7 linked regions of the Homo sapiens genome follow. The protein of the gene in region 5 interacts with the protein of the main gene of each other region in a biochemical or structural test. Each region holds a gene or a part of one and is shown on either strand. Other genes may lie near its edges. The genes, in order: APBA2, DLG3, PDZK1, PALS2, CCDC134, SNTA1 and IL16.

Region 1 (4,425 bases), on a different chromosome or scaffold from region 5:
CAGTTGACGTGAACTACTAATATAATATTAGATATCTGATTAAAACCATCAAGATGACAGAAAGGTCTACTCACAGAGGTGCTCTCCACCCCCAACCCCCGCATCAAATAGAGCTCCCTCTCCTTCAAATCAGATATTTTTTTTGAGACAGGTTCTCACTGTCACCCAGGTTGGAGTAGAGTGACGCAGTCACAGCTCACTGCAGCCTCAACTTCCTGGGCTTAAGGGATCCTCCCACCTCAGCCTCCCGAGTAGCTAGGACCACACACGTGAGCCACCACATCCGACTAACTTTTCTATTTTTTTGTAGAGATGGGGTCTCCTTACGTTACCCAGGCTGGTCTCAAACTCCTGGGCTTAAGCGAGCCTCCCTCCTCGGCTTCCCAAAGTGCTGGGATTACCTCATGAACCACCATGCCCAGCCTTCAAATCAGAATTCTAAGGAGCCTAACAAGCAGCAGGCCTTTCCAGTTATGGCGCATGAAAGTAACAAAGGCAGCCTCAGCCAGCATCCAGCGCAGTCCCAGCAGACAGAGATAATGAGGTGGACATGGGCCTCATGGGAGGGAATACTGCCCCCCACCCCCATGCCATGCCAGTGAGAAAAACAGACTGACTGCAGCCCCAAAACATACAGCAACTTACCCACGAAACAGGAACCTCTGATGCCTGACATTATCAGGTAAGAGATATTTCTGGCCCAGCAGCCCCCAGAGGATGAACAGCTCCCTCCGCCTGAAAGGGGAAGAGGGTCCAAGCTGCAGGCGCCCTGGCACATCGAGGCCATGGACAGGAGGCACCCGAATGTCTCCCCAGAGTACCCCTGCTGCAGAGGCCTCTGGAGCCCATCATCCTGCGGCACTGCTGCTCCCGCTCTCTTTCCCAAGCCCTGTGCAGTCCCCTCTCCTGACGCAGGACCAGAAAGCTACTGGGAGCCCCGTAAGGACAGCCTGCGTGCCCAGCCAGGCTGAGGCCAGCCACCGGAGGCCAGCAGCAGGGAGGCCACACCTGCGCTGTCACCCACACCCCTGCACACTGGAGCTGCCTGGGGACCCAGGCCTCCCTGTGTGCCGAGGGTAAGTTGGCGGAGCTGCACAGGTTAAGGCTGGGTGAGCCAGTTAATAATGTGATGAACGGTTTGTCATGGATTTTGTCGTTCTTTTAGAAAAACAGGGGCAAGTTAATCTAGAAATCCTGTAAATCTCTAAAGGGTAAAATTAAACGTCCTCACTAGCAAGGCTGGGACTTGGCAGCAGCAGCCGCCTCCTACAGAACATAGGGAGCGGGCTCTGGAGCCCCCCAATGACGCAGGAGCTGCCTTGGCCAGACACCTGCCCCCGCCACCCTCCTGTGTTCTTACTGAGCCCCTCCCCACCCCATGCAGTGCATCTTCCACCAGCACCTCCCCGCACCCTCCCCTCGCCTCTAGATGCACCCCTGAACATGCCCCTAACGGCGTCCTTCTCCCACGCTCTGACCTGTCTGCTAGGGAAGCCAGCTGCAGAAATCACTCTCCTAGAGTTCGCTTGGTAAACTATGCGTTGTTATTGGCCCATCTGCTTCGCTCCCAACCCACAGCAAGGACTCTCTAGGGCCACCAAGCTCCTAATCGTCAGCAACTGCCCTCCAACCCCCATCTCCAGCTCTAACCTACACAAACCACATAGTCCCCCCTGTGCCCAGGGTGCCCCATTCCAGGCTGGCCCTTTGCCTGGAGGGCTCTTCTGGCCTGGGCTCTGAAGGGGTAAACCCACCCACTCTTATAGGATGGGGTCCATGATCCACCCCAACCTACCATGGGGCTCTCACATCTGCCAGACTGTGCCTCTCTAGGAGGGCCTTGGACCCAGAGCCAGAATGGGGCTCTGATGCCACTGCACATTCTCCAGCAGCCCCCTCCATGCCCTCCCTCCTGATCCCACCCAGCTCTAAACTGGGAACAAGAAAGCTGGAATACAGTAGCTGCTCAGAAAATACCTACTGAGTAGATGGGTGGATGGATGGACAGAGCTCCAGGCAAAGGGACTCGGGGGTAAGAAAAGTGAAGGGTACCTGCCCCCGGTTCTACCACTGCAGAGTCCTTGAGTGTCAAAGGACTGAGAGGTGAATGACAGGCAAGGTGAGACCTACCATGTTAGTGTCCCGCACCCCTTTGTTTCCACTATTAGATTAAGCCACCCTATGTGACAGATAAAAGGAGTAACACGTACGGAGTTAGACCAGGGTTGCCAAAGTGAGGGGTGGGAATGCTGCCAGTCCAGGGGTCCCCCACGGCAGCTCCCCAGACGAAGTCAAGGCAAGTTGGAGATGAGGCTGCCTCTAGGTGTATCAAATCAACTGAAGCAGCACCAGTCGTCAGTGCTGATTAAGCACAGGCACGCCTGTGATCAAGAAGAAAACCATTACTTAATAAAATGCAATTAATTTAGAAGCTGAAAACTGCGAAAGCCCAAGGGAGAGACATAATCAGGAGTTCTTGGTCTGGAGGGGCTTCTGCTCTCAAAGCTTCCAACCCAACACAGCACAAAGATGTCTTCCCCAACAACCGCACATCCAACCTGCAAAACGATGACACGCTCCTCTCCAAGTACCTGAACCTTAGGACTCAAAGGGTAGAGAAAGTTCACAGGCAGAATCTTCACAATACATGCACAAAAGAAAGGCACTTCTACTAGGAGCTGTGGGTCAGGAAAACCTCGACTTCACCCAATGCCATTCCCGAGACAATCAGCCATTAATGTGACCCACTCAGTCCTGCCTCAGGGGCTCAGAATCTAGCAGTCAGGCCAGATGGGAAGTGCAGGGACCTGCGGCCAAAATCGGTCCATTCATCACCCAGCTGACGGCTTTCACAAGTACTAGCCAGAATCAGTAAGAGGCTGGAGGTAGTGCCAGGTGTCTGAAACCCAGCAGGCAAGTTGGTAAAACACACACACACCCTAAACCTGGTGACTGCACTGACTGAGTGCTTTACTGTAGCAGAACAGTTGCACACATCTCATCTCCTCCATCCATAGTAACTCAGTGGCTGGTGAGGAATGGGACACAGATCTCCACGTGCCCTTCTCAGGATGAGTCAAGACAAACTCTGAGCAGTGACGCTCTACAGCTGGCTCACACGTGGAGGCAAAGCCTGGCTTCCCAGAGCTTCCAGTTCCTAACACATGCCTGGCCCCACTGCACCACACCCGTGACAGCTGCCACCAGCTCCGGATAATCCAGACAGATGCTAGAGCACATGGCTCACTTATTACAGCAAAAGACTGAGAAACAGAAACTATGTTTTATTTGCACAAGGCACACACTTGCTTCCAGAGAGACCTGAGAAATCCATCATCCCTAAATGCACGCATTCACTCAATTAGTGGTTTTCCTGTTTTTGCAACAATGGATTTTTCCAAGACAGTTGACAATTAAACCAACGGTGGGAAACCATAAACTGTACTTTACTAAATTAACAATGCATACAACAGTTCGGAGGAATTCATATTTACAGCTGCCCTGCTGGAGAGTCAATTCCAGGAATGTAAAACCAACCAAATAAAAAAAATTTTATATATATATACACATACATACACACATATATACGTACACATACACACACACACACACACATATACACACAGTTATGCATCGCTTAATGGCAGGGATGTGTTCTGAGAAATTTGTCATTAGGCAATTTCATCATTGTGCAAACATCATAGAGCATACTTTATACAAACCTACTCCACACCTTGGCTATAGGTTACAGGCCATTGCTCCCAGGCTACACACCTGGGCAGCATGTTACCACGCTGAATACTGTGGGCAACTGTAACACAAGTATCTATCTAAACATAGAAAAGGCACAGTAAAAATATGGTATAAAAGATAAAACATGGGCCAGGCGTGGTGGCTCACGCCTGTAATCCCAGCACCTTGGGAGGCCGAGGTGGGCGGATCATGAGGTCAGGAGGTCGAGACCATCTTGGCTAACACAGTGAAACCCCGTCTCTACTAAAAATCCAAAAAAATTAACCAGGCGTGGTGGCAGGTGCCTGTAGTCCCAGCTACTCGGTAGGCTGAGGCAGGAGAATGGCATGAACCCGTGAGGCAGAGCTTGCCGTGAGCTGAGATTGAGCCACTGCACTCCAGCCTGGGTGACAGGGCGAGACTCCGTCTCAAAAAAACATATATATATATTATATATAACACAGTACCCCATCTAGGACACTAACCATGAATGGAGCTTGCAAGACTGGAAATTTCTCTGGGTGAGTCCATCTGTACACTAGCGTAGACTTTATAAATATTGTACACTTAGGCTACATTAAATTTTTTTAAAAAATAAAGTAACTGCACTACAACTTTACGACAATGTCACTAAGCAATAGGAATTTTTCAGCTCCATAATAATCTTATGGGACCTCTGTCATATATGCTATC
Region 2 (4,425 bases), on a different chromosome or scaffold from region 5:
CGCCCTCCCTTCTCAACTACTTTAAGAAGGTCTCTGAGCCACAGTTCATTGCAACTATCGTTTATTAAAAAATATATGTCTCCTTGGAAGAAACACTGGTAAACCCACTAGTATCATGCTTACTTTGAATCTTTGTTTCTCTTCCCTGGGAGGGGGAGGGCTGAGCACGGTTGAGACTTTGCCACTTAGTTAACATCAGAGAATCAACCTCCCTGCTCACCCCTCCTCACCAGAGTCACAGTCGGCTGTCACTTTATCCCTTTTTGCCTTCAAGCCATTGTACTGCCCAGGGAAAGCCGCTGTCCTTTCCTTATCCTCATCCTGGGTCCCATGCTTTATACAGTTAGCCTCATTCTGCTGGTTGGACAACTGTTAACAGAGTTCCCGGATTCGGCTGGTAGTGCTTAAAGCATCCTCAACATTGCCTCGCTTGCACCAGCCCTAACCCAGCGGGCTAGGAAACAAGTGCCTCAATCCTAGGGCCAAGCACTTCTCTGTTCTCCCCTGCGTCGTCCCTCCAGTATGGAGGCGAGGGAGGCACGTTGGCTTCAAAGGAGCACAGTGGGGTGGGGGGGGACCTGAACCACACCTGCTGCCTGCACTTGTGGCGGTGAAGATTCCCTTGATCACAGTCACTGCCATCAGACTCTGGGAAAAAGCAACAAGGTTTCACAGCTCACCAGTAAGCGAATCTTAGCTCTACAGCTCAAATGTACAGCATAAAGTCTACTTTCCTCTTGAAGAAACCATAAGCTACCAGCTGTTGGGGAGGGGCTGGAGCAGAGCATATGAAGCAGCTGCAAAAAAAAAAAAACCAAATCAAACTCATGACGCAGCTGGCCAAGCAAGCCAAGTGCTGTCCCGCCATCCCAGCACAGAACTGGAAGGCAAGTGACTCCCTGTCCCTGTTGGTGGAACCCAGGAAGGAACCTCAGCAGAGCCCTCCGTGTCCTCCTCTCAGCCCAGCCCCTGCTTTCCCTTCTGCTGACAGGACAACCAGGCCTGTGTCACCTACTCCATCACAAGGCCTGGCTCCTTCAGGACCTCATAAGCCTTTAGAACCTTGGCAAATTGGATTCTATGCATTCACTTAAATAGTAAAAGTAAAATTTGCAATAATGAAAAGGCTGACACAGTAGCACAACATGGTTTTGGTTTAACAGCAGCTTAAAAAGGAACAAAAAGGAAACCTCTCATGCAGACACATCAGGTGGCATAAAACAATAGGCAATTCCACGCGGAGCATCATTAGCCATTCTCTCTGTCCGCACACAGGACTCTGGCTGCACCTCAGGGGCAGCAGCTGCTTTCAGGTCAAGTCTCTCACCCTCTCACCCCAGGCAAAAGCCCTTCCTCTCCGGCCTCAGGCTGACCCCTCCTAGCTCTCAAGAGAATGACCAAATGCGAGTGCCCTTAGTGCAGCACTTGCTACCATCTTCAATCCCTTCCCAACCAGCTGGGATAGAAGATGCCATCTGATTGGAATATGAAAATTAAAGCATTTCTCTAATAACATAGTACCATTGATGAAGTCTCCATAGATTTTCTAACCCAAATGTGTGTGAATATATATATATTATATGAGAGTGTATAATATATATATATAATAATTTCTATATATTTTATATAAATTACATATATATATCTATATATAAATAAGATACTTTCTGTCGCCATTACGTTGCACCGTTCAGAGCTGCAAGACAGCAGTACAGATAGGGAGAAATGCCCAGGAGCATCTCATCATGTGGTGCATTTAGCTCACTTCACAAGCCGTGCAGCTGTCCAGAGTCTGTCTTTCCATCAGTCCTCCTCTTTTCTCTTCACTTCTGCTTGGTTTTTATGAAAACAATGGCTCTGATGGATTTTGCACCTGTGCTAGCGCTTGGGAAAGGTCCATGCAGGAATGGGCACAGTCACATGATGAATGAGATGGCATCATCCCAAAAAATAAACTGAAACAAACAAAAACTTAAAAAAAAAAAAAGAACAGGACTAGAAAACTTAATTTTTTTTGACATATCTAAAAAAGGGGACAAGAACAGTAGCATTTGTTCTCCCCATGGGGACAGGAATGAAGAGGGAGGAGGGAAGAGGGACTTGATTTCTTCTGTTCACAAGAGAATGGTTGGAGGGGATTCTTCAGAGTTTTTCAGGGGATGGGACCCAAATGTAGTGCCCAGACTGGTCCTCAATGATTTGTTTGATTTTGTTATAAATCTCTTCCAGTGAGTCACCCTGTACAATGGCTAAAGTGAAGAGGAAAACAAAATTATTACTGTGGTCCATAGCACATCCCCCAAACCCAGCAATCCTGCCTCTCCCAACAATCCTACAAGTCCCCCCTCCACCCCCTCACCCCTCACATGAAGGACATGTTCCCAGGAGTATGGGTTTGGGCTTGGGTTCACTGGCTGGCTGCCTGTGTGTTCAGGGCAGTAAGGGCAACCAACAAGGTACCCCAAGTCCAGGGCTTGAAGTCAACTCACTGAGACAGTGAGACTAAGTAGTAATGACCAGAAAAATGTGTTTATTCAAAAGATGTTTATTGAGCACCCACTATGTGCCAGACCTTGCAGTTCATGTTGTTCTTGGGTGCCATAAGGCCAGCAGCTTGTTATTCTAAAGCAGCCTTACTAAAAGATTTGGAAAATCGCAGTTCTCCACAGAAAGAACTGAAAGCCACAATTTCTGGCAAGAGGCAGCGCTCCTGGGCCCATCACATCTGCTGTATGTCAGAGGTCAGCCCAGCAAACAAGGACATGGATGCTGATGGTAAAGGGAGCTCTGAAGACCCAAGGTGTGTGAGGACATTTATGAATTCTTTACACAGTTAACCTAGTGTCACCACCAGCTAGAATGGATTCGGCACTGCCTTGCATATATTTATGTATATATATGTCACTGTACTTCAAAAGGTGAAGAACGTATTACATAGAAACCTTCCCAATGTTTCAGGAACTGACCTTACACACACACACACACACACACACACACAGACAGACAGACAGACACCCCAACAGACAACTTGAACAGCACACCGAGGAATCATCATCATCAACAAACGTTTATTCAGCACCTAAACATGCAAAGCAAAGTACTGGGGGAGGGGGAGTGGAGCTGAAACGGAGGGAGACAGAGTAATACAGGGAGCCTACAATCTAGTAAGGACAAGACAAAATGAACAAACCAACAATTCAAGGAAGCATTTGGTGAGTGGTTTATGCTATAAACTGGCTGAACTGCTATGGCTGGACACGGGGAACTTGTGTGCTTTGGAAAGGTTTGTGCTCAAAAACTTAAAAGCAACTGGAAACTCCGTGCAAGGTTTCTACATTCTGTCTACACCTCTTTGAGACACTTATAGAAACAGGTACCTGGCTAGTTCCCCAGAACCCCCCGCAGGGCAGCAGGAGTCTTACCTGTAAAGTACTCTCCAAATTCCTGCTCCAGTTTCATGGCTTTGTCATAGATCTTATTTGCTTGTTCATATGTCTGCCTTCGGTTCATTTCCCTGCCAAAGACAGAAGAAAAATAGTTCTGAACCAGATCTTATGTTCTGATTAACCATAAAGGATTATTCCAGGATCCCTAAAAATCTGCTAAGCTGCCCTCTCAGAGCAGCAGTGGCCCGTAGCTAACTCCTCAAACCTGCGTTCAAAAGTCCAACCATGAACATATGCACAAGCCCTCAAAACAGGAGCGCCCAGTGACCAGAGCTGGGGCACAGAGTTTCTTTCAAGTTTCTGCCCAGCAAATCACTTTCTTCTCCATTTCCCTTCCAGACCCGATCTTAGCTTGGTGTGTCTGAGTTCTCAGTTCAACACTTACATAAGGGCTTCAATGGACTTGGGCTTGATGAAAATGGCAATGGGGTAAAGTTGTGCTTGCTGCAGTCTCTTGATAGCATTGCCGGAAACATCTAAGATGCAGTGCTTGCCCTGAAAAAGCAGAGATTGTAACAGCCCAGCCACTCCCTATTCACCAAGTCCCAAGCAGAAATCCAGTGACATTCTAAACATCCACCTTGGCCGGGGGTGGGGGTGAGGGGAGGGGCACGAGGGCCACCCAAAGTGGCCTAAGAAATTCGATCTCTGAAGTAGACAGGCCCTACTTTTTGCTCCTATTACCCAGAAAAGGCCACATCTGTCCAGGGCCCCCTATTCCCTGTTGGGTAATGCTCTGGGGTGAGTTGTATGAAGGAGACAGATAGCTTCGTCAAGGCGCTGGGAGTATGCAGATGTGCTATGGCTTTGGTCAGCAGCACTGTTGGGCAGCTCCTGTGTTGGAAGGATAAGGATCCAAGTGGAACCTTGGCATAAGCATTGGCCTCCCCTTTGAGGCCATCTCCTGTACACTTACCCTCTCTGCAACTGCCCGCACTGACTGGATGCTGGTCCCATAGAGGTTATCATTAAATTGGCC
Region 3 (3,867 bases), on a different chromosome or scaffold from region 5:
GACAATACTCAGCAGAGAGCATCCCGTGTGGATATGAGGCTGGTGTAGAGGCGGAGAGGAGCCAAGAAACTAAAGGTGAAAAATACACTGGAACTCTGGGGCAAGACATGTCTATGGTAGCTGAGCCAAACACGTAGGATTTCCGTTTTAAGGTTCACATGGAAAAGGTTATAGCTTTGCCTTGAGATTGACTCATTAAAATCAGAGACTGTAACACTTTTGCCTTACGTTCATTTTATCAAGCATAGCTTGGTATTTATTATGCTTGTGTGATCTAACATCAGTTAGCATCCCACACCTCCTCATCTGATCCTGCCCCATTAAAATAACCAAGAAAGAGGTTATCTGTTCTTTTCCGGGAAAGGGGTGGTATGCACCTGAAATAGATTTTACCAAAAGAGAGATTTCAGGTATGTCATTTTTTCTTGATTTCCTGTGAACTTAGTATTATACCCTACTTTCAATTCGGTAGTGATGTTTCCTTTTTTTTTTTTCTATCTGCCCCTCACGCTGTGGGGTGAAACCGTGAATAACTTAACTGGGGGAATAAGTCACTTGTGAAAGGGAAATGTTGAAAAATTTTTAGAACACTCAGACATGCAATTTAAGAAAATTCTGAATTTTATTACTAAGGTCTTATTCTGTACTTTATTGTGTTTTGGGTTTCTAGAGGCAAATGAAGGTTAAAGCATAAAAAGTGAATCCAAAACAAAAGCACTATCAAGCATACTCAAAAGGCATTTGTTAATGGTATTTATTCTAGCAACCACAACATTGTTACAAAAGCACAATTTTAATAGGCTTATCTGCTAAGATGCTTTTATAAGCAGCTGTCACCTATACAGAGTTATGAATCATCTTTGGTGCTCAAGGAACCTGTAGAAGTAAGAGACATCATCATACAGAGAAATGTAGTTAAGTTAAGTTGAAGCTTGGAAAAGATCACATGAAAAAAATCTAGCTCTTGCCTTATCTCTTCCTAAGTTAAGCATAAATTAGCCGTCTGCAATAGCCGCCTGTAAGACAAATGATAACAGAAGACAATCACACATGGTGAATGGTTTCCAGTGGAGTTTTTCTTCTAAAGAGACAGTAAACAGGTCACAACTCATTCCTTGAGAAAGGATTCCTATTAAATACCCAGAAACAGCTATCAAATAAACAGCCAAAGCTATTACTTGTTTTCATCACATCTCTGTATCTTCAGAATTGGAAGAAGAATGTGAGGCTGTACTGTGGGCCTGTGTATAAGAAAACAAAGAATTTACAAATGGTAGAGTAATGAAAGAGGGATGATCTATTCTAGAGTTGCATGACTTAAGTCGGGGAGTAGAGTCACTCACTAGAATTTCTTTCTTTCACAGCATGCAGTTGACAGCAATTGTGTAGAGCTGATAAATCAAGTAAAAAGTTTATCAGTATTGTAATGGGAACCCCCAGAAGAGCCTGAATCAGATGATCTGGGTATGACTAGAAGTCAGGTGACCTGAATTCTACACTTGATTGTTTTCAACTTGCTGTTTGACACATTAACAAATTCCTTAATGTCTGTGTATATTTCTTTTTTATAAGACTAGGATATTGACTTCCTAAAGAGAAATTACAGAATTTTTAAATGACAACTAATACAACTAATAGTATTTATTAAGCATTCCTGAATACAAATCAGTGGGCATTGTGTGTGTTCATTAAACTGAGTTTATTAAAATGAATATTCCACCCATTAGCAGAATTAATATAATGGAAAGAAGAACAACATTGAATTAAACTTTTTTAGAGTCTCGGCTTTGCTATAAATTTCCTTTATGAACTTGGATAAGTCAGTTTACTTTTCGACCTCAAGTTCATCTATGAAAAATTGGGCAAAAATATAAAACTGAGACTTACCAAGAAATTTAATCCAAATATATAGAGAATAATATAGAGAATGCTTAATCTTTCCTAGTAATAAAACTGGATTACCTGTCAGTTGTTTTAAACAATATTGTCTTTAACCGTCACCACTTACATGCTCACTATGAGCCAGCCACTATTCAAAGCACTTTAATATAGTTAATCTTAGTTAACATGATCCTGATAACAATCCTACAAATTATTCCTGTTTTATGGGTGGGAAAACTGAGGAACAGAACAAATAAATCCATTTCCCCACAGCTGACAAATGACAGAACCAGAATTCATATCTAGATCATCCGATTCAGGCTCTTTTGGGGGTTCCCATTACAATACTGATAAACTTTTTACTTCTTGATTTATTAGCTCTAGACAGTTGCTGTCAGCTGCATGCTATGAAAGTAAGAAATTTGTTGTTCTTATACTGCCTCCTGTCCTCTACAATAACTTGATTTGTTAGTTATCTTTACATTTTCATTTTCTAGTTTTAAAAAAATCTGTGGCAAACATAGACATTAAATATACTCATAGGGACTGTACCCATACTCTAGTAAATTAGATCACGAAAAGAAATAGGCCCCCACTCACCCGTTCTTTTGCCATGTGCGAGTCATGGTTTGACTCCACCACTATTCCTTCTTTAGAATCTGGAGGGGTGTCAAGTGGATCAGCCAGGGAGGAAACAATAGGGATTTTCTTAGCTTGGAAATAATCATAGGCCTTCTTTCCACAGACTAGAAGTGTGACATTCTTCCCACTGCTCTGGATTCTATCCACCACCTTCTCATAGGGTTCATCTAGCACATTCACCCCATTCACTTCAATGATGACATCCTCATCCTCTAGCCCAGCCAAGTCAGCAGGACCGCCCTTCTGTACCTGTGAACAGAAGTTCTGAGTTATCAATTTCAAACAGAGAAGGGGACATCAGACTAGCTCTCCTTAAGAGAATAGATGAGGAGCTCAAGAATTTATTTTTAATCATGTTATTATTTCTCCTTGAGGTATAGAAGTTGAGAAAGGTGTTCTAATGCTTTTATATTTATGAAGGCTATAACTTCCATATTCACATGATTAGTGGTATTATAAATAGTGGTTCAGCATCATATGTCTTCTGGGATGAAGGGGGATAAATAGGTCCCCCTTCTTCACTCCCAACTTGAAAGCTTTAGGGATTCTTATCAGTCCCTACAGGGTAAGGGGCATTATGCCAAATGCACAGAAGCAAACAAATATGACTGCCAATCAGGGTTGATAGTGACTGTCAACTAGAGTTCAGTCAACTCACACTGTTTGGAACAGATGTTTGGGAAACAAACAAACGTGAGCTTATGATGTACTGGTAGCTAACCTAAAGGGTGTGGGACCATGACAACATTTATCTGAACCCAAGTGAGACCCCTCAGTGTGTGCCTTCAATGGAACCTCTCTACTAAGCCATCAATGGGTGGGAAAAGCTGAGACTATCCTAATTGTGGCTGTGTTTGTTGGGCTGCTGGAACCAGATTACCATACCTCTTTGATGAATGAGCCTGGCAGACCCCGAATCGCATTTAAGTGAAAGCCATAGCCATTTTCACCTTTAGCCAGCCTGCAGAGTTTAGGCTTATGATCTACTTCCTCTGTAGTATCTGGTGGACTTGAGACTTCCAGAGAAGTGGGAGTAGGAGCTGGAGCCTCCTTGACAGAGCCATTGGGCAGTTCTTGACTTTGATAGTAGAGAAATGGAGAAAAATGAGCCTTTTGAAAAATAAAGGGAAAAAACATTAACTTAGTTGTAACCATGAGTAAGTTATACTTTGTTAAATGTGCTGATTTTTAAGGTATCATACATATTCCACTCTTCTTCTGGATGTGTCTGATTGTAGGCTGTAAAATTCCTCTACTACCCCAACCAGGAAAGGTATAAAAGAAGACTGTGCTTCGTTATGGAGTAATATGTGTATACATGTACACAAATGCACACATGAACAT
Region 4 (4,425 bases), on a different chromosome or scaffold from region 5:
ACAATGTGCACATGTACCCTAAAACTTAAAGTATAATAAAAAAAAAAATTAAATAAATATTTAGCATGGGAAAAAAAAAAAAAGAAAGGATCTGAATAAGATATCCTCAAAAATGCCTCCTAGGATTTATAACCACTTTATTTGGGGGCAGGGGACCTTATTGAAAGTCGTGAAAAGTTTCTTTCAAGAAAGTAATGGTGAATGGAAACTAATTGTATAGTATCTGGTATTTCCAAATTGAATAGCATAAAATGATAATCTAACATTTTAATTGGGTGAATAGTAAAACTTTATAAAGATCATTAAATTCCTTCACGGAAAATTTCTCTACCTAGTTGTTTTCAAGAGCTTAATGCTAAGGATTGGTTGGTGATGGCAAACTGAGACTACTTTGTCTCACAAGATAGTCCAACCTTTTAAAAATAGGGCTTACATTTTTTTTTACTGACCTCCATTCCAAAAGATTACTAGCTAAAAAATAAAAAACATTTAAATTGATTTGTATAAAAATATGAATGATTTCCAGGCACGGTGGCTCACGCTTGTAATCCCAGCACTTTGGGAGGCCAAGGCAGGCAGATCACGAGGTCAGGAGTTCAGGACCATCCTGGCCAACATGGTGAAACCCTCTCTACTAAAAATACAAAAATTAGCTGGGCGTGGTGGCACACATCTGTAATCCCAGCCACTCAGGAAGCTGAGGCAGGAGAATCACTTGAATCCGGGAGGCAGAGGTTGCAGTGAGCCGAGATCACGCCACTGCACTCTAGCAGCCTGGGTGACAGAGCAAGACTCTGTCTCAAAAAAAAAAAAAAAAAAAAAAAAAAGCATGACTATCATTTCAAAAATAAGCAACTTTAATAAATTAAACTTCTTTACTCAATTATCTGAGTTTCTTATATCAAAGCTCTTTATAAGAAACCCAATTATTGGAGTTTCTTATACCTTCTAGCTCCTTATACAAGGATAGAAGATAGAAGGATATTAAAAGAGGAATAAAAAAAGCAAATAATTTTTTATTTATGTAACTAAAGTTAGGTTTTCCATATAACATTTTATTATGTGCATATAGACATACATATTCTAGTAAATAAAAAGAAGACAAATCCACTCAAAGATAGCCACATTCAAACTTCAAATAATATTTATTACAGTTAATGAAAAAAAAATCAATGTTTCTTTTAGAAAAGTAACGCAAGCACTAAGCTGGTAATACCAATAAAGTATTTATAGTAATATTCTATAGATTATTTATAAACTCTGCCATTACAGAACTAAAACAAAATGTTCTGAAACATTCAAGAATTTGTAAACAACTGACATTAGCCCTCACCATATCACCAGATTGGATGCTGTTCAAATGAGCTGCGACTAGAATTAGTATTCCCAATTCCTTAGCAAGCCATTATTACAAAATAGGATTTCATTTTCTTTATATGCATCATATGCTGTATTTGATACAAGATGATGGGAGTTATATTCTTTATATGAAAATCAGTTGATGCTTTGGGAAGACCCCAAAAAAGCAAGTGACAAAACAACAAAACAAAATGATAAACTGCTGTAAAATTAAGGGTAAAACAAGTATAAACAATTGAGGAGTCATAAAACATTAGAAATCTAGATCTTATATGCAGACTGCTTCACAAACTTTTAAGTTCTCACTCCAAAGCTGGTAATCAGTGATAATGCATTGGCTTATATAAGAATGATGACCCAGAGTTCCTGGCAAAAGACACATACTTAAAGAAAAGACTGACACATGAATGTAGATTTTTAAGTAATATATTATTTAAGATATGTGTCAATCGTTTATGACTCTTCACTTAAATCACTTTCAGTCAGCCAAAACTACCACCCGTTCTGATCAAATCAGATTAAAGGCTTTTACTCGTAATAGAGGCATCAAAATTTTTTCTGGATACCCCAAAAAAGCTATTGGCAATAGTTGCCTTTAGAATAACGTTTCTCGGCTTCATCACTACTGACATTTTGGGCTGGATGACTCCTTGTTGAGGGGGGCTGCCCTGTGCACTGTTTGCAGCATCCCTGACCTATACCTTATACATAGTAGTAGCAACACCTTCCCAGTTGTGACAGCCAAATATTCCTGGAGATTGTTCAGCAAAATCATCCCTGATTGAGAAATACTGACTTAGAAAGTGATGAAGATGGGACAAAAAGACTTATCAACTCCTCCTCCCTTTTCTGAACTATTTAAATTACCATTATGGTAGGCTGAATAATAGTCTCCCCCTCCACAAGATATCTATGTCTTAATTCCTGACACCTATGAATGTCACCGCATTTGGAAAGTTTCACAGGTGTGATTAAAGATCTTGTGATGGGGAGGTTATTCCAGAGAGCACTAAATGCCTTCACAAGTGTCCTTCACAGAGGGAGATTTCCCTTTCTCTCTGACACACACACACACACACACACACACACACACACACACACACACACGTGGGGAAATGAAAGACACAGAGCTGAAAGATTTCAAATGCCAGCCTTGAAGACTGCAGTGTGTAGCCGCAAGCCAAGGAATGCCAGAAGCCACCAGAAACTGGAAAAGGCAACAAGTAAGTTCTCCCTTAGATTCTTTGGAGGAAAAATGTCCCTGTTGACACCTTGATTTTGGCCCAATTATACTGATTTCAAATGTCTGGCCTTCAGAATCGTAAGAGAATACATTTATTTATAAGCCACTAAGTCTGTGGCAATTTGTCACAGCAGTCACAGAAAACTAATACAATCATAAAAAGATTTTAGTGACTTAAAAAACATAATTTTAAAATCTGCAACAAGCAGATGAGATAATGTGTGGAGAGCATTTAACATAGACCTTGAAACATGGTGGTATCTATAATATTATCAAATGTTTACATCAGCATTAACTATGACTAAACGCCAACCTCTTGATAGCAAGAAGAAAAAACAAGGAAGCTCAACTAGTAAAACTGGGTATATTTGTTCAAGGCTCATGTGAACGAAAACACATAAATCATCTACTCATGTGATGAGTGTACTTGCCAGTTGTATAAGCACTGTGTTATAATTTGTTCTGTACTGAAAAGATAAATTATGGATGAGGCCACCTAATGATGGCTTCCTTGGAGAACCATGCCTGAATATTCATTAGTAGAAAAGAAACAAGAAGGCAGAGGAGGGAAGAGTATGCAAGAGAGTAAAGCAATGGGGATCAATGAGGTATGTGCAGAAGTATTGACCTGGTGAGAGACCAAGTTCCAGCATTAGAGTTACCTAAATTATATACAACCTCAAAAGCTTTGTTGAATGATTTCATTATTAAAATGGAATATTCCACAGGATGTATTATTTTACACTCAAATGGTGGCTCCTGGGGATTTTAACAATATAAACATGCTCCTGCCCCATACCAGACCTACTAAATTAGAATCCTTTAGCGTAGGATAGCTCCAAAGGATTCTGATGCCCACTTAGGTAAAGAATCCCTGCCAGAGTCACTTCATGGTAAAAATGACCTACAGAACAAAATATAAAGTATTTATCCTTGAAATATGCATTTAAGTAAATCAGCTTAGTATTTTCCTAAGTTAAAACTTCTCCCAACATGTACCCCTCTGAGTTCCACCACAGAATTTCTCTAAACGAATCCCTCACCTTTCACTTTTCCTTTCCTAAGCATATGGCCCCCAGTCTGCTCAGAGAATCATTTTCCCCACACTTTCTCATACATTTTTCTTTAAAAGTCCCACATATCTCCAGCTGCCCTATTCTATCTTTTAAAAATATTAATCCTACCCAACTAATATCTAATAATATCCTACAGAACAAAGCAACTATGAAAAAGTTCCATTAATATGCTATACAATAAACCAAGATTTATAAAAAATTGCTCTATTGCCTATTCTAATAAATATTCTAAGTAGATTTATCAAATGAAATTGAAAATCACTTTTTATAAAAGATTTCTTCCAAAAACATAAGAATTATGAACTGGGTCTATAAAAAGGTGATAAGCTAAGCTCCTTCAATTAAATCTTTACTTAGTGCTACTAAGTAGGTAACAAAGTGCTGGGCTGTGTGAAGGATACAAAGTATCGGAAAATCTCGGTGATTTATAAACAACTTTACCAGTACTGGGGTAGAAGAAAGGGGAATGGAGAAGATGGAAAGGGGTAACTAAATACCACTCAAAAGGTATCTCTTTTTGGGGGAGGAAGCCTGCTGTTTCAGTTTGTTTATGACTTTAGCCAAAAACAAAGCAATGCAAGTTAGTGTTCAAATAAGTTGTGCATTAACTTTTTACCCTTTCACAAACATCTGTATCAATTAAGGCATATTTCCAGCCTTTTCTATTTACCTTAATGCTCTTCAGAAATTTCAACCACATCAGATTTTGATTTGTGTTTCCACCAACAATGTGAAAGCCCCTGTTAA
Region 5 (4,425 bases):
GACTCTCTGGTGAGCAGGACTCAGGAGAAGGCAGATGATGACTAGTGTTTCTTCATCTGCAGATGGCCCAGGAGCTGGGGATCAGTGAGAAAGACTCCAACTTCCAGAACCCATTTAAAATCGACCGCACAGAGGTGAGCTGCCAGGGCCTATGCCTGTGTCTGCTTTGCCTCTGCTGGGCCATAGGACACCGAGGCCTGCAGGGGCTGGGGACCTTGGGTGGCTTTGGACTTGGAGCCAGGCAGCCTGGGCCTGGGTCCAGAAGATATCACTGACTCATTGGAGCCTGTGGGCAAGTCATTGCTCCCCTCTTAGCCTCAGGCTCCCTGTCTGTTCACAGCATGTGAACTCCAGTTATGGGGGGTAGTTAGGAGGCTATGAACAAACCCATCCCAGCACAAAATAGGCATCCCACTTCAGGTGGATATCAGGGTAGCTAGGGAGATCAGGCCATGCTCTTCCCTGCCTTTGAACCTCTGAGCACCAACTGGGCTTCCATCCCGCACTCCTGTACATGCTCTCATTCCAGGGGTTCCAGGGGGCTGAGGTGGGCTTTGAGAGCTGGAGACCAAGTTTGGGATAAAAGATGAGGACAGGCCGGGCACGGTGGCTCACATCTGTAATTCCAGCACTTTGGGAGGCCGAGGCGGGTGGATCACCTGAGGTCAGGAGTTCGAGACTAGCCTGGCCAATATGGTGAAACTCTGTCTTTACTAAAAATACAAAAAACTGGCCAGGCGTGGTGGTGCATGCCTGTAATCCTAGCTATTCAGGAGACTGAGGCAGGAGAATCGCTTGAACCCGGAAAGTGGAGGTTGCAGTGAGCTGAGATCGTGCCATTGCACTCCAGCCTGGGCAACATGAGTGAAACTCCGTATCAAAAAAAAAAAAGGGGGGACAGATACGATAGATGGAGGAAGGGATTGGAAGTGACAGGGCTAGGAGGGGCAGGAAGGAAGGGCTGTGGTGGCTGGAGGACTGGACTTGTCAAACCCTGGTGTCGGGAGGGGTGTTGGGTGTCTCAAGGGTCTAGGATTTAATTCTGCCTCCAGGCCAACAAGCTAGCCTGCTACTGTTTCATGGACACTGATAGGTCAGAGACATTGGACTGTATTACAGCAAAGGCACTAGCTAGACTGTTGGCCTGGTTGTGTTGGTTCATCTTGTTCCCTAACTCCCACGGAGGTGACACAGAGGGGCCAGGTGGGCGCTGTGCATGCAGGGGGTGTGCATCATAGCTGAGAACTGCCAAGCTGGAGAAATTCATGATTTTTATAGTGAACCGCAGCAAATGTGCTCTTTGGGAAGAGACATCACCACACCGTTCGAGGTTGCTCTCTGCAAACACAATCCTAAGACATGGCCCAGGTAAAGAGTGGTTAGGGCTTTGTATCTTTGGTGTGCCCTGCAAGAATATGCAGGGATGCTCAGGGCCATGATGGATTGCCACCCCAACAGTCTGCCCCAAGCCCAAGCCCTCCATGGCTTGGTTTAACTCAAATTTTCTTTTCTTTTCTTTTTTTTTTTTTTTTTTTGAGATGTAGTCTCGTTCTGTCGCCCAGGCTGGAGTACAGTGGCGCGATCTCGGCTCACTGCAAGTTCTGCCTCCTGGGTTCACGCCATTCTCCTGCCTCAGCCTCCCCAGTAGCTGGGACTACAGGCGCCCGCCACCACACCTGGCTAATTTTTTGTATTTTTAGTAGAGACGGGGTTTCACCATGTTAGCCAGGATGGTCTTGATCTCCTGACCGCGTGATCCACCCGCCTCGGCCTCCCAAAGTGCTTGGATTACAAGCGTGAGCCACCGCACCCGGCCTAACTCAAATTTTCACACGAATGTGCTATTCAGTCTGATTGATCTGACTGATAGAGGCTAGGACCAAATCTGTCAATTAGTCTCATACTTCATTTAATTAAGATTACTATCAACTATATTCTGAATAGCAGGGTAAGGCCAACCTACATTATTATTATTTTTTTTATAGACAGGGTCTTGCTCTGTCACCCAAGCTCTGTCACCCACCTAGCTTACTGTAACCTTGAACTCCTGGGCTCAAACAGACCTCCCACCTCAGCCTCCTGAGTAGCTGGGACGACAGGCCTGTGCGACACCATTCCTGGCTAATTAATTTATTATTTTTTTCAGAGACAGGTTCTTGCTGTGCTGCCTAGGGTGATCTCAAACTCCTGGGCTCAAGCCATCTTCCTGTCTCAGCCTCCCAAAGTGTTGGGATTATAGGTGTGAGTCACTGTGTCTGGCCCCTAACCTGCAATATTGAACAGGGTCCTGGACTCAACCAGCTGTGAAGGTCCTGGAGGACCAGTAAGTCTCATTTTGGATAATCAGGATATTGTCTAAGACCAATCTGTTATCCACGACCACCCACATAAGAGAGTTTAGATTGACCTGCCAATCTTTGATGTTACTGCCAATAAGTACAGGGGGCAATAGATGGACCCAAGCAACCCTCATGCCCCCATAAGGAGACATTCCATGACCCATTCTCTCCCACATGTTACGCTTGATTTGAGTCACCAGAACAATGTTTAGTTGAGCCTGAGGGCAGTGTCACTGTGGAGCTTCAGCCTCAGTTGCCTACATGGTATAATCCAAGGCTACTCAGACATCAGGAAAAGCAGATGAATTTGTATCTGTCAGGTTGAAACAAAATTGTGCTGGCTGGTGTGTCTGCACAAGGTCACTGTTGAGAACTACCTTTGATGGCATTAGACACAGCAGAATAGCTCAGTACTGACGTGTCCATGTGAGTTTTCCTATCATGTGGATGGAAATGAGACACCCAACAGTTGGCCATATTGACAGCTGCAGCTGCCACTGGGCTTGGGCAGACCCTAGGATTGTTTTGCCAGGTGGCAGTGATGGATCTAAGGGATAAAGAGAACATTAATTGTTCCCTGCACTTTCTGGGATCTAAGGTATATCCTCCCCAGGTGGCAGGATTATTGCTATAAAATCCATGTGTCCTTGGGAGACCGAGGTGGGCGGATCATGAGGTCAGGAAAATCAAGACTATCCTGGCCAACATGGTGAAACCCCGTCTCTACTAAAAATACAAAAATTATCCGGGTGTGGTGGCGCATGCCTGGAGTCCTGGCTACTCAGGAGGCTGAGGCAGGAGAATTGCTTGAACCCAGGAGGCGGAGACTGCAGTGAGCCAAGATCGCACCACTGCACTCCAGCCTGGCGACTGAGTGAGACTGTCTCACAAAAACAAAACAAAACAAAAAGCATATGTCCTATGCCAGCATCTATAGTTTCACTTTTTCTCCAGTTGTTGCCTACTATCACTTAGATCTTTCATTCAGAAATGTCAGGTATGAATGGGACCAGGGCATTTTTACAGATGTATAGAGACCTGTTATATCTCTTCTCTTTACCCACATGGGCCACTGCAGGGAAATCAGCAAGCAGGATACTCAGCCAAGTGGTCACAATCCTAACAATCTCAGGCTGTACCATTCCAACCAGAGACTCAGGTAGTTGAACCAGAAATATACAGTCCTCTGTTTTGTGCCACTCCTTGGTAGTGGGTATGTTACCATGCCAAGTAGAATGATATGTTTAGGTGGCAGTGGCAGTGATCTGGATGAAGTAGGCTTGATCAGCAGTTTGACTCCATTTGGTCTTTTCAGAGATTGAGCTTTATGATGGGCATCTAAACGAGTGAGCCAGGCTGTCTAGTTTGTCACCACAATTTGTTTCCATAGTCTGTGGCCCTAAAGAGGGGTGAGGGGTAGGTATCGCCAGGCATGGTGGCTCACACCTGTAATCCCAGCACTTAGGGACCGAGGCAGGCGGATTGCCTGAGGTCAGAAATTTGAGACCATCCTGGCCAACATGGTGAAACCCTGTCTCTACTAAAAATACAAAAATTAGCCGGGCGAGGTGACGCATGCCTGTAGTCCCAGCTACTCGGGAGGCTGAGGCAGGAGAATCGCTTGAACCCGGGAGGCAGAGGTTGCAGTGAGGTGAGATTGCACCACTGCACTCCAGCCTGGGCAACAGAGCAAGACTCTGTCTTAAATAAATAAATAAATAAATAAATAAATAAATAAATAAAAAGAGAGGGGTAGGTATCTTTGATCTGCCAGTTTGTAATCTCCAGATGACCAGGACACTGACAATAGTCAGTAAGAATATAACATGCATGGCTGTTAGGAAGGAGTGTCATCCAAGCAAGGGTGATACCTTTTAATTCAGGCCATTGTCTGACTGGCCTTTATGGCAGTTAATCAGCCAGCATTGTTACTGGGGCTGGCTGACTGTTGCTGCCCATGGACACCTGTGTCAGGTTCCCAGAACCACTCCCAGGCTTGATGGTTCAATAGGAGGATTCACAGGACTCAGCATATGGTCATATTCATGGCCACGATTTACTACAGAGAAAAGATACAAAGCAAAAT
Region 6 (4,425 bases), on a different chromosome or scaffold from region 5:
TTGGTTTCCAGCCTGGACTTTGGATTGTAAAACATTATGATTGCTAAAGCAGTCTTTTGAGGCCATAGGAATAGCCGACTTGTCTCTTGATTCCGGTTTGAGGGGTATCAGTGGGTTCCCACATTGTTGCCTTTTTGTGTGTGTGTGTGAGACAGTCTTGCTCTGTTGCCCAGGGTGGAGTGCAGTGGTGCGATCTCGGCTCACTGCAATCTCCACCTCCTGGGTTCAAGCAGTTCTCGTGCCTCAGCCTCCTGAGTAGCTGGAATTATAGGCACACACCGCCATGCCTGGCTAATTTTTGTATTTTTGTTTTATTTTGAGATGGAGTCTTGTTCTGTCGCCCATGCTGGAGTGCAGTGGTGTGATCTTGGCTCACTGCAACCTCCACCTCCTGGGTTCAAGCAATTCTGCTGCCTCAGCCTCCTGAGTAGCTGGGACTACAGGCATGTGCCACCAGGCCCAGCTAATTTTTTGTGTTTGTATTTATTTATTTATTTATTTATTTTTTGAGATGGAGTTTCGCTCTTATTGCCCAGGCTGGAGTGCAATGGTGCAATCTTGGCTCATTGCAACCTCAGCCTCCCGGTTCAAGCAATTCTCCTGACTCAGCCTCCCGAGTAACTGGGATTACAGGCATGCGCCCCCATGCCCGGCTAATGTTTGTACTTTTAGAAGAGATGGGGTTTTGCCATGTTGGCCAGGCTGGTCTTGAACCCCTAACCTCAGGTGATCTGCCCATCTTGGCCTCCCAAAGTGCTGGGATTACAGGCGTGAGCCACCACGCCCAGCCATATTTTTTTATTTGTTTATTTTTTTATTATGTATTTATTTACTTTTTTGAGCAGAGTTTCACTTTTGTTGCCCAGGCTAGAGAGCAATGGCGTGATCTCAGCTCACTGCAACCTCCGCCTCCTGGGTCCAAGTGATTCTCCTGCCTCAGCCTCCCGAGTAGCTGGGATTACAGGCATCCGCTACCACGCCCAGTTAATTTTTTGTATTTTTGGTAGGGACAGGGTTTCACTATGTTGGCCAGGCTGGTCTCGAACTCCTGACCTTAGGTGATCCACCTGGCAGCCTTGGCCTCCCAAAGTGCTGGGATTACAGGCATAAGCCACCGCACCTGGCCCTTTTTTGTGTTTTTAGTAGAGGCAGGATTTCGCTATGTTGGCCAGGCTGGTCTCAAACTACTGGTCTCAAGTGATCCGACCACCTTGGCCTCCCAAAGTGTTGGGATTACAGGTGTGAGCCACTTTGTCCGGTTATTTTCATTTTTAATTTTTGTGCGTACATAGTAGGCATATATATTTATGGGTTACATGAGAAAATCGAAAACATTTAAGAAAAAGTGATTGAAGCACTTTGTAAGTTGCACAAACACTGGTGAACACCCAAAGCACTTAATCAAAAGATCCAGGGATCAAACTATAGCATTATGAATTTTGAAAATGATTTATTTAATTAATTAATTTATTGAGACAGGGTCTCCTTCTGCCACCCAAGCTGGAGTGCAGTGGCACAATCTCAGCTCACTGCAGCCTCGACCTCCTGGGCTCAAGTGATCCTCCTACTTCAGCTTCCCTAGTAGCTGAGACCACAGGTGCCTGGCTAATTTTTGTATTTTTAGTAGAGGCGGGGTTTTCCCATGTTGCCCAGGCTGATCCTGAACTCCTGACCTCAGGTGACCTGCCCACCTCAGCCTTCTAAGGTGCTGGGATTACAGGCATGAGCCACCGGACCTAATCAAAAATGATTTATTATTAGTGTTACTAGTGTCCCAAACTTCCAAGATTTTTCTCAGATTCCCTTTATTCTCCCATTGCCTTTTCCAGCACTGGGCTAGGCACCAAGGGAAGCCTTCAGAAATAATTGTGTCTTGATGTGACTCCCAAGTGTTGGAGTATCTGCCTAAGTCTTGTCCTCCTTCTGTACCTGTGCAGGCGGCCGGGAGAACAAGATGCCTATTCTCATTTCCAAGATCTTCAAGGGATTGGCAGCTGACCAGACAGAGGCCCTTTTTGTGGGGGATGCCATCCTGTCTGTGAATGGGGAAGACTTGTCCTCTGCTACCCATGATGAGGCGGTGCAGGTCCTCAAGAAGACAGGCAAGGAGGTGGTGCTGGAGGGTAAGCACTGACGTTCCAGGGTTCAGAGGGGCTGGGTGGAGGTGTTCCACTGCTTCTCTACCTCCCCCAGGCCTCAGAAGGCCCCATCCCAGCACTGGGGGCTGGGAGGTGGGCAGGACTGAAAACAGAAACAGAATTTGGGGACCTGCCTGAAGACAGTGTGGGGTGGTGGAGGGAGAGTTGGCATAGAGCCAAGCAGACCTGATTTGCATTTTCTGTCTTCCAGTCACTAGCTGTGTAGCCCTGGACAAGTCACTTCATTTCCCTGATCCTTAGTTTCCTCATTTGTAAAACAGGGATGTAGCTCCTGCCTTTCTGGGTTGTTGCGACTAGGGCAAAAATGTACATGGCAGAGTGTGCCAGCACCTGAGTGACACAGGGAGAGAGGGGTGCGGACTGGGGAAGGGGCAGGTCAGATTCTTTCCTGTGGGGCCTGGAGAGCTCTTGACTTCAGGTTCTTTTAGTGCCTGGGCCTTAAAACCCCAAGACCCATCCTCCTTTGGGAGAAGCCTTGGCTTTTATTTTACTTTATTTTTTTTTTGAGATGGAATCTTGCTCTGTTGTCCAGGCTGGAATACAGTGGCATGATCTTGGTTCATCGCAACCTCTGCCTCCTGGGTTCAAGTGATCCTCCTGCCTCAGCCTCCCAAGTAGCTGGGATTACAGGTGTGCGTCACCATGCCCAGCTAATTTTTATATTTTTGTAGAGACAGGGTTTTGCCATGTTGGCCAGGCTAGTCTTGAACTCCTGGCCTTAGGTGATCCACCCACCTCAGTCTCCCAAAGTGCTGAGATTACAGGCATGAGCCACCACGCCCAGAGGCCTTGGCTTTTATAGAGTAGGACATCAAATCCTTCCAGCCAGGATCAGAGAGGAGTTTTGTGGAGGAACCTTGGTTGAATGGCTTTCTCCACTGTTCCCTCACAGTGTGGTCTTGGGTGGGACCCTTGCCCTCTGTGGGCCTCGGTTTCCCCATCAGTTGTTACACGCCTCCTGCTGAGGTTGTCCCATGACCATCTTGTGCCATGTCTCTCAAGAGGTTTCTGCTTTGCTCAGCCCTTTCCTCAAACTCTGTCAGCTCTGGAAGCCCCGTGGGGGCCTGAGGAATGTGTCTCTGGCTTATGGCCCAGAACAGGCACAGGGAGGTGGCGGGGGCTGATGGAGAATAACACGGCCAGAGAAGCTGCTGAGTTGAGTCCCAGGCCCAAATCCTGGTGGGTTGCCTTGGTTTCCCTAAAGGAGTGTCCAAGAGGCCACAGAAGCAAATAGGTTCTCGGTCCTTGGTTGACCCAGATATAAAATAAAATAAAATTTAAATAAAGAAAATAAAATGTAAAGTTTTATTTTATATTTTAGGTATATCTATTTAAATGCCATGGATGCATTTTTTTTTCTTGTTTTTTTTTTTTTTCGAGACAGGGTCTTGCTCTATCACCCAGGCTGGAGTACAGTAGTATGATCTTGGCTCAATGCACCCTCCACCCCCCGGGGCTCAAACAATCCTCCCACCTCAACCTCCTGAGTGGCTGGGACTACAGATGCATGCCACCACACCTGGTTAATTTTTTTTTTTTTCTGAGATGGAGTCTCACTCTGTTGCCCAGGCTGGAGTGCAGTGGCATGATCTCGGCTCACTGCAACCTCCGTCTCCCGGGTTCAAGCAATTCTTCTGCCTCCGCCTCCTGAGTAGCTGGGATTACAGGCACCCACCACCATGCCCGGCTAATTTTTTTATTTTTAGTAGAGATGAGGTTTCACCATATTGGCCAGGCTGGTCTCAAACTCCTGAGCTTGTGATCCACCTGCCTCAGCCTCCAAAAGTGCTGGGATTACAGGTGTGAGCCCCTGCGCCTAGCTTTTTTTTTTTTTTTTTTTTGAGATGGAGTCTTACTCTGTCGCCCAGGCTGGAGCAGTGGCGCGATCTTGGCTCACTGCATCCTCCGCCTTCCAGGTTCAAGCGATTCTTCTGCCTTAGCCTTCCGAGTAGCTGGGACTACAGGTGCGCACTACCACGCCTGGCTAATTTTTTTTTTGTATTTTTAGTAGAGACAGGGTTTCACCATATTGGCCAGGCTGGTCTCGAACTCCTGACCTCGTGATCTGCCTGCCTCGGCCTCCCAAAGTGCTGGGATTACAGGCGTGAGCCACCACACCTAGCCAATTTTTTGTAGAGACAGGGTTTCACCATGTTGCCTGGGCTGGTCTCCAACTCCTGGGCTTAAGGGATCCTCCCACCTAAGTCTCCCAAAGTGCTGGGATTGCAGGCCACAGTGCCCAGTCTAGATGCATTTTTTTGATACT
Region 7 (4,425 bases), on a different chromosome or scaffold from region 5:
AGTCTTGGGACCCTGTAGAGAAAAGACTGCAGGGAGGGAAAAGTGGGAGAGTGAGACAGTGGACACTGTGGCCACGGAAGAAAACATCCAGTGAGAAATCCCCAGGAATGGTCAAGGAAATTTTGAGAGTGACCTCAAGCAAATTGCTTCCTGTTTTCTATTGCGTGCTATGATCCTTTCTCTGTGACCCCCGCCTCTCCAGTGCCCAATAAAATTATGTCGTGCTGATTGCTTTTATGGAAATGTTTGTGGGAGAAGGATCTGCTGGCCACGTGGGACAGACCAGAGCAAACAGAGGAGGGCAGCTGCAGAACGGCCTTGTCTCCAGGAGACGGTGCTGTTGGGGGCAGGTACAGGAGGGAGCCCTGTATTCTGCTGAGGCACACAGGGCATGAAAGATGACCTGTGGGAAGTTCCTTGCCTGGGCTTCCCTGAGGACACCCCAGTTCCTTCTCCAGACGCCTTACTCGGGAATATTCCCTGACCCTATGTGGCTCTGCCAAGGGCATCACTGGGACAGACCTGCTGTGGCAACTGCACTCCTTTTCTGGGCCTCCAGGAGGAAGGCAAAATGACTGGCTTCTCAGCTGGCTGCTCCTGATTTGCCCTTCTGGACTCATAGGTCTCAGGCCCAAGGGAAAATGAAATATGGGCTTAAAAGAGGGGGTGGGAGAACAGATCCATCTGATAACTCCATCATGTGTTGCTAACCAGCCACATCCTGCCAGCGCTCTGCAAAACTGCACTTCCTTTTTAGTAACCTGGCTTCCTCCTCCCTCCTTCACTTTCACCCCTCCTACTCAACATCCCGTCTCCACCGCTACCCCTCCTGAAGCTTGCCAACCCTCACTGTAGATTGTTTTAGGGGATTTCCAGAGGCCCCCTCCCACCTGCCCACGGTGTGCTTAAGGGAAGGGCCAGGGCCCCTGCAGGGCCATTCCGTGATGGGGGAGACAGCTTCTGGGTAAGGATGGGAAACTCAGCATTGCATAGTGGGTAACTGTGACCCACTAGCAATGTGAACTTGAGCGAGTTTCTCAGTTCCCTCTTTGCACAACTGGGACTCTCACCATCAGGTGGTTGTAAGATTTAATTGACACAATGTACATGAAAGTACTCAGTGTGGTTAGCCTGCGCATAAAATGGTTCTAGACACAGCAGCTGTCTGTCAGTCAGTCTGCCTTTTATGCAAGGGGTGGAAAGGAGGGCTTTAAGGGGCCTGATGGGGAAAGATCATGGCAATGAATGCTAATATGCCTGAGATGCTGTCAGGTACTTGCCTTAAGTGGTTACCTTTAATCCTCACAATAGCCCTTGGAAGGAGCCACTCCTCCCGGGTTTAAGCAATTCCCTGCCTCAGCCTCCTGCGTAGCTGGGATTACAGGCACCTGCCACCATACCCGGCTAATTTTTGTATTGTTAGTAGAGACAGGGTTTCACCATCTTGGCCAGGCTGGTCTTGAACTCCTGAGCTCATGATCCACCCGGCTCAGCCTCCCAAAGTGCTGGGATTACAGGCATGAGCCACCGTGCCAGGCCCCTTTTTAGTTATTTAAGCCACTATTCTCCCTACAAGCAGGACACTCAAAGATCCACATGCAAAGACTGAGACCCTGCAGGGGCCCTGGTATTTTTCCTTCATGGTGAGTGAAAAATGACACAAGAAAGGAACCTTAAATTCCAGTGTGTTATGGGTGGGAACCCAGATGCCAGCAAGCAGGACTGGGACTTCAATTATCTGTCAACCTTCAAACCCATCTTTTCATGGTCAGTCCTCAGCTGAGTCCTAGGCAACAGTTTCTCTCTGGTGGAGCAGGAGAAACTTTCATTCTGGCCCTGCTAACACTAACTTGCTAATTTGCCCATGCTCAAGATTTGAGTCTGGTCCTGGAAACACTCAACCTGTGGACCCATCCTCTTACCTGGCCACAGGTGGGTGGGGTGTGCCCAGAAGAGCATGAGGAGTTCTCTCTCTCTTCCAGACTCTTCTGAGGGTCACTGTCACTTTTAAAGTATTTTCTGGGTGGAGGCTTGGGCTTGGAGGACATAGGCTTTCTCACCAAAATCTCAAAGGATTTCTTCAGTCTCAGCGGCGGGTGGCTGTCCCGGCTCTCTGGGAGGGGTGGGCTCTCCTGGGGCAGCCTGGAGGATGCTATAGAAAGCACCACTGGCTCCCGTGCCAGAGGCAAGCTGGGGCTGTGTGTGCTGATGTCCACGTCAGAGGACGGCTTCTCAGCACTGCCACTCCCAGGACTTCCCCCTGGGGACCCAGACATGTAGCTGCTGTCACTGCTGGAGCGGATCATGACCTTCTGAGCCCTGCGATGCGGGGGTGCTGAGTTCTTCTCTCGTTCCTTCTCCAAGGTGGGCCGCCCGTGCCAACTGCTTTCCAGCCTTTTGACACCTGTGTGGGAAGCACAAGAGAATCTTCACAGCTGAGCTTCAGAAAACAGAAATACCCCCTGGCCTCACCTGTGACTGCCACGGGCAGCACACTGCACATCGGCCATCTGCTTCTTATCTGAAGTCACTGTGGATCTGGAGTATGGCAGTCTTGGTGTTGGTCCCTGGCGAGCTGTATGACTTTGGGTTGGGAAAATCATTCAAGCTTTCTGAGCCTATGACTGATGTATATGGAGATATGCCACCCAGATCACCCATCGAGGAAGGGCTTGGTGTCCCAGCTGTGGGGAGTGCTGCTGGCAGACTACTTTCAGCTGTGGGTCCCTCCAGGGGCTGCCACAGCTGCAGACAGCTGCCTTGTCCAATGGGGCAGCCCATCTCCAGGGACTGCTGGAGATAGGGTTACAGAGGCCCAGCTATGTTGGCCAACATAGGACAACTCTAATGGGGACTTTGGCTGCAGAGCTCCAGGGCTTGGCTGAAGCTGTTGGGTGTGCACCTCAGCTCCGTCCTCCCTCTGTCTACCCTGCCTGCTCCCCTCCCTGCCACAGGTAGTGAACCCCAGGACACTGCCTGCAGACCAAACTCCATCTCAGAGTCAGCTTCCTGGGGGACCCAACTCCATTTCTGCATCTGTAAAATGAGGATGATAATTTTAAAGTCACTGGGGTTATTTTGAGGCTCAATAACAAAGACAGAGAAACTACCTGTCAAGGCACTTTGAATCTTACACGAAGAAGTCACTATTTCTTTCCAGTTGAGGGTGAGGTGAGGGCAGAAAGCCGCTATTTCTTAGCCACTGCACCTTCCTCCCTCCCTCCCCATTAGCCCTTCCTGGTTCTCAGTACCCCCTACCCTAGTTTCCAGCACTAGGGCTACCCACACATCCTTGAGAGGCCCTTCTCTCTAGTGGTAAGCTGTCAAGGGTGCCCCTTTCCTAAAATCACAGCTTGAAGGGGTGGGAGAGGATTGAAATCTAGTCTCTTGCTCAAATTCCAGCTCATTCTGAGAGACCAAGAAAGCCAGAGGAGCCCCATGAGAGAGAACCAAGGCCAGCCAAGCTCCTAACTCACTTTCTCTTTAAATAAAAAGTTTTCTTTTTTTTTTTCCTGATCATGAAATAATGCATCCTCCTTAGAGAAAACTCAGCCACAAGGAGGAAGGAATGAAAGTAAAAATTCACTTCACCTGTGTTCCTATCAGCCAGAAATAACTACTGTCAAAATTTTGGTGAGTTTCTCTGTCATGCTTTCCCGAGCATATATGCATGTTGGGTGGGTAGAAATAATAAACCAGAGCTGAAATAAATTGTGTTCTGTTCTTTTCTCTGAACATTTCCCCAGATCATTTAATTTCTTGTCAATATCAGTGCCAATGGTTGCATGTTGTTCTTTCATAAGGATGTTCCATGGTAGACGTGATTAATGCCCAATGGCTAGGCATGGGAGTCAAGCCAGCTGGATCTCCATTCCAGAGCCTCTGTGCTCTAGTGGTATGACTTTGAGTAAGAGAGTCTCTGAGGGCCTCACTTTTTCTTATAAAATTTGCATAAAAATTATGTGTGAATGCATGAATTAGCATAGTCTCTGATTTATTATAAGAATTATAAGAATTAAATAAATGTCAGAATTATATTCCCAAATGTTAGTTTTTCTAATATTCTATTATTATAAACTAGGGGCTGCAAACTCAAGTGCCTGCAGGGGCTATTGTGTGAATGGCAACTTGGTACAGGATAAAGGGAACGGTGGAGACCACCGGGAGCTGGAGAGAGCCTGGCACATTTGTAGCAATTTAAATTCAGATGCTTTTAAAATCTTGTGTCTTCCAAACAAAGCAAAAATATAAGCTAAATTTAGCTGGTGGGCTGCTAGTTTTCAGCCTTTGTCTACATACTATGCTGGTCTATGGTAAATGCTGTTACTATTCCTTGGATAGAGGATGAGTTAATGGATAAATCCTAAGCTTTCTAAGAAGGCAAAGATATTTTACATCAAAGTTCACCATTTGTCTTACCTTCCA

What was found.
Region 1: the proteins of CCDC134 (region 5) and APBA2 interact in a test that uses a peptide from one of them, tested with the Homo sapiens proteins (one large-scale study listed by IntAct).
Region 2: the proteins of CCDC134 (region 5) and DLG3 interact in a test that uses a peptide from one of them, tested with the Homo sapiens proteins (one large-scale study listed by IntAct).
Region 3: the proteins of CCDC134 (region 5) and PDZK1 interact in a test that uses a peptide from one of them, tested with the Homo sapiens proteins (one large-scale study listed by IntAct).
Region 4: the proteins of CCDC134 (region 5) and PALS2 interact in a test that uses a peptide from one of them, tested with the Homo sapiens proteins (one large-scale study listed by IntAct).
Region 6: the proteins of CCDC134 (region 5) and SNTA1 interact in a test that uses a peptide from one of them, tested with the Homo sapiens proteins (one large-scale study listed by IntAct).
Region 7: the proteins of CCDC134 (region 5) and IL16 interact in a test that uses a peptide from one of them, tested with the Homo sapiens proteins (one large-scale study listed by IntAct).

The regions. Positions count from the first base shown.
Region 1 is NC_000015.10:28,891,830-28,896,254, reverse strand, and holds part of APBA2 (amyloid-beta A4 precursor protein-binding family A member 2), read right to left. Parts: intron 736-4,425; exon of another isoform or gene 646-735; intron 1-645. UniProt on the Homo sapiens protein: Putative function in synaptic vesicle exocytosis by binding to STXBP1, an essential component of the synaptic vesicle exocytotic machinery. May modulate processing of the amyloid-beta precursor protein (APP) and hence formation of APP-beta.
Region 2 is NC_000023.11:70,499,987-70,504,411, reverse strand, and holds part of DLG3 (disks large homolog 3), read right to left. Parts: coding exon 4,363-4,425; intron 3,942-4,362; coding exon 3,832-3,941; intron 3,515-3,831; coding exon 3,423-3,514; intron 2,250-3,422; coding exon 2,143-2,249; 3' UTR 1-2,142. UniProt on the Homo sapiens protein: Required for learning most likely through its role in synaptic plasticity following NMDA receptor signaling.
Region 3 is NC_000001.11:145,670,249-145,674,115, forward strand, and holds the end of PDZK1 (Na(+)/H(+) exchange regulatory cofactor NHE-RF3), read right to left. Parts: intron 3,634-3,867; coding exon 3,409-3,633; intron 2,773-3,408; coding exon 2,482-2,772; intron 1,392-2,481; coding exon of another isoform or gene 1,359-1,391; exon of another isoform or gene 1,242-1,358; coding exon 1,188-1,241; 3' UTR 1,017-1,187; coding exon of another isoform or gene 996-1,016; 3' UTR 737-995; downstream 1-736. UniProt on the Homo sapiens protein: A scaffold protein that connects plasma membrane proteins and regulatory components, regulating their surface expression in epithelial cells apical domains.
Region 4 is NC_000007.14:24,579,286-24,583,710, reverse strand, and holds part of PALS2 (protein PALS2), read right to left. Parts: intron 1-4,425.
Region 5 is NC_000022.11:41,813,689-41,818,113, forward strand, and holds part of CCDC134 (coiled-coil domain-containing protein 134 isoform 1 precursor), read left to right. Parts: intron 1-62; coding exon 63-134; intron 135-4,425. UniProt on the Homo sapiens protein: Molecular adapter required to prevent protein hyperglycosylation of HSP90B1: during translation, associates with nascent HSP90B1 and the STT3A catalytic component of the OST-A complex and tethers them to a specialized translocon that forms a microenvironment for HSP90B1 folding.
Region 6 is NC_000020.11:33,436,539-33,440,963, reverse strand, and holds part of SNTA1 (alpha-1-syntrophin), read left to right. Parts: intron 1-1,937; coding exon 1,938-2,123; intron 2,124-4,425. UniProt on the Homo sapiens protein: Adapter protein that binds to and probably organizes the subcellular localization of a variety of membrane proteins. May link various receptors to the actin cytoskeleton and the extracellular matrix via the dystrophin glycoprotein complex.
Region 7 is NC_000015.10:81,290,535-81,294,959, reverse strand, and holds part of IL16 (pro-interleukin-16), read right to left. Parts: coding exon 4,420-4,425; intron 2,405-4,419; coding exon 1,923-2,404; intron 1-1,922. UniProt on the Homo sapiens protein: Interleukin-16 stimulates a migratory response in CD4+ lymphocytes, monocytes, and eosinophils. Primes CD4+ T-cells for IL-2 and IL-15 responsiveness. Also induces T-lymphocyte expression of interleukin 2 receptor. Ligand for CD4.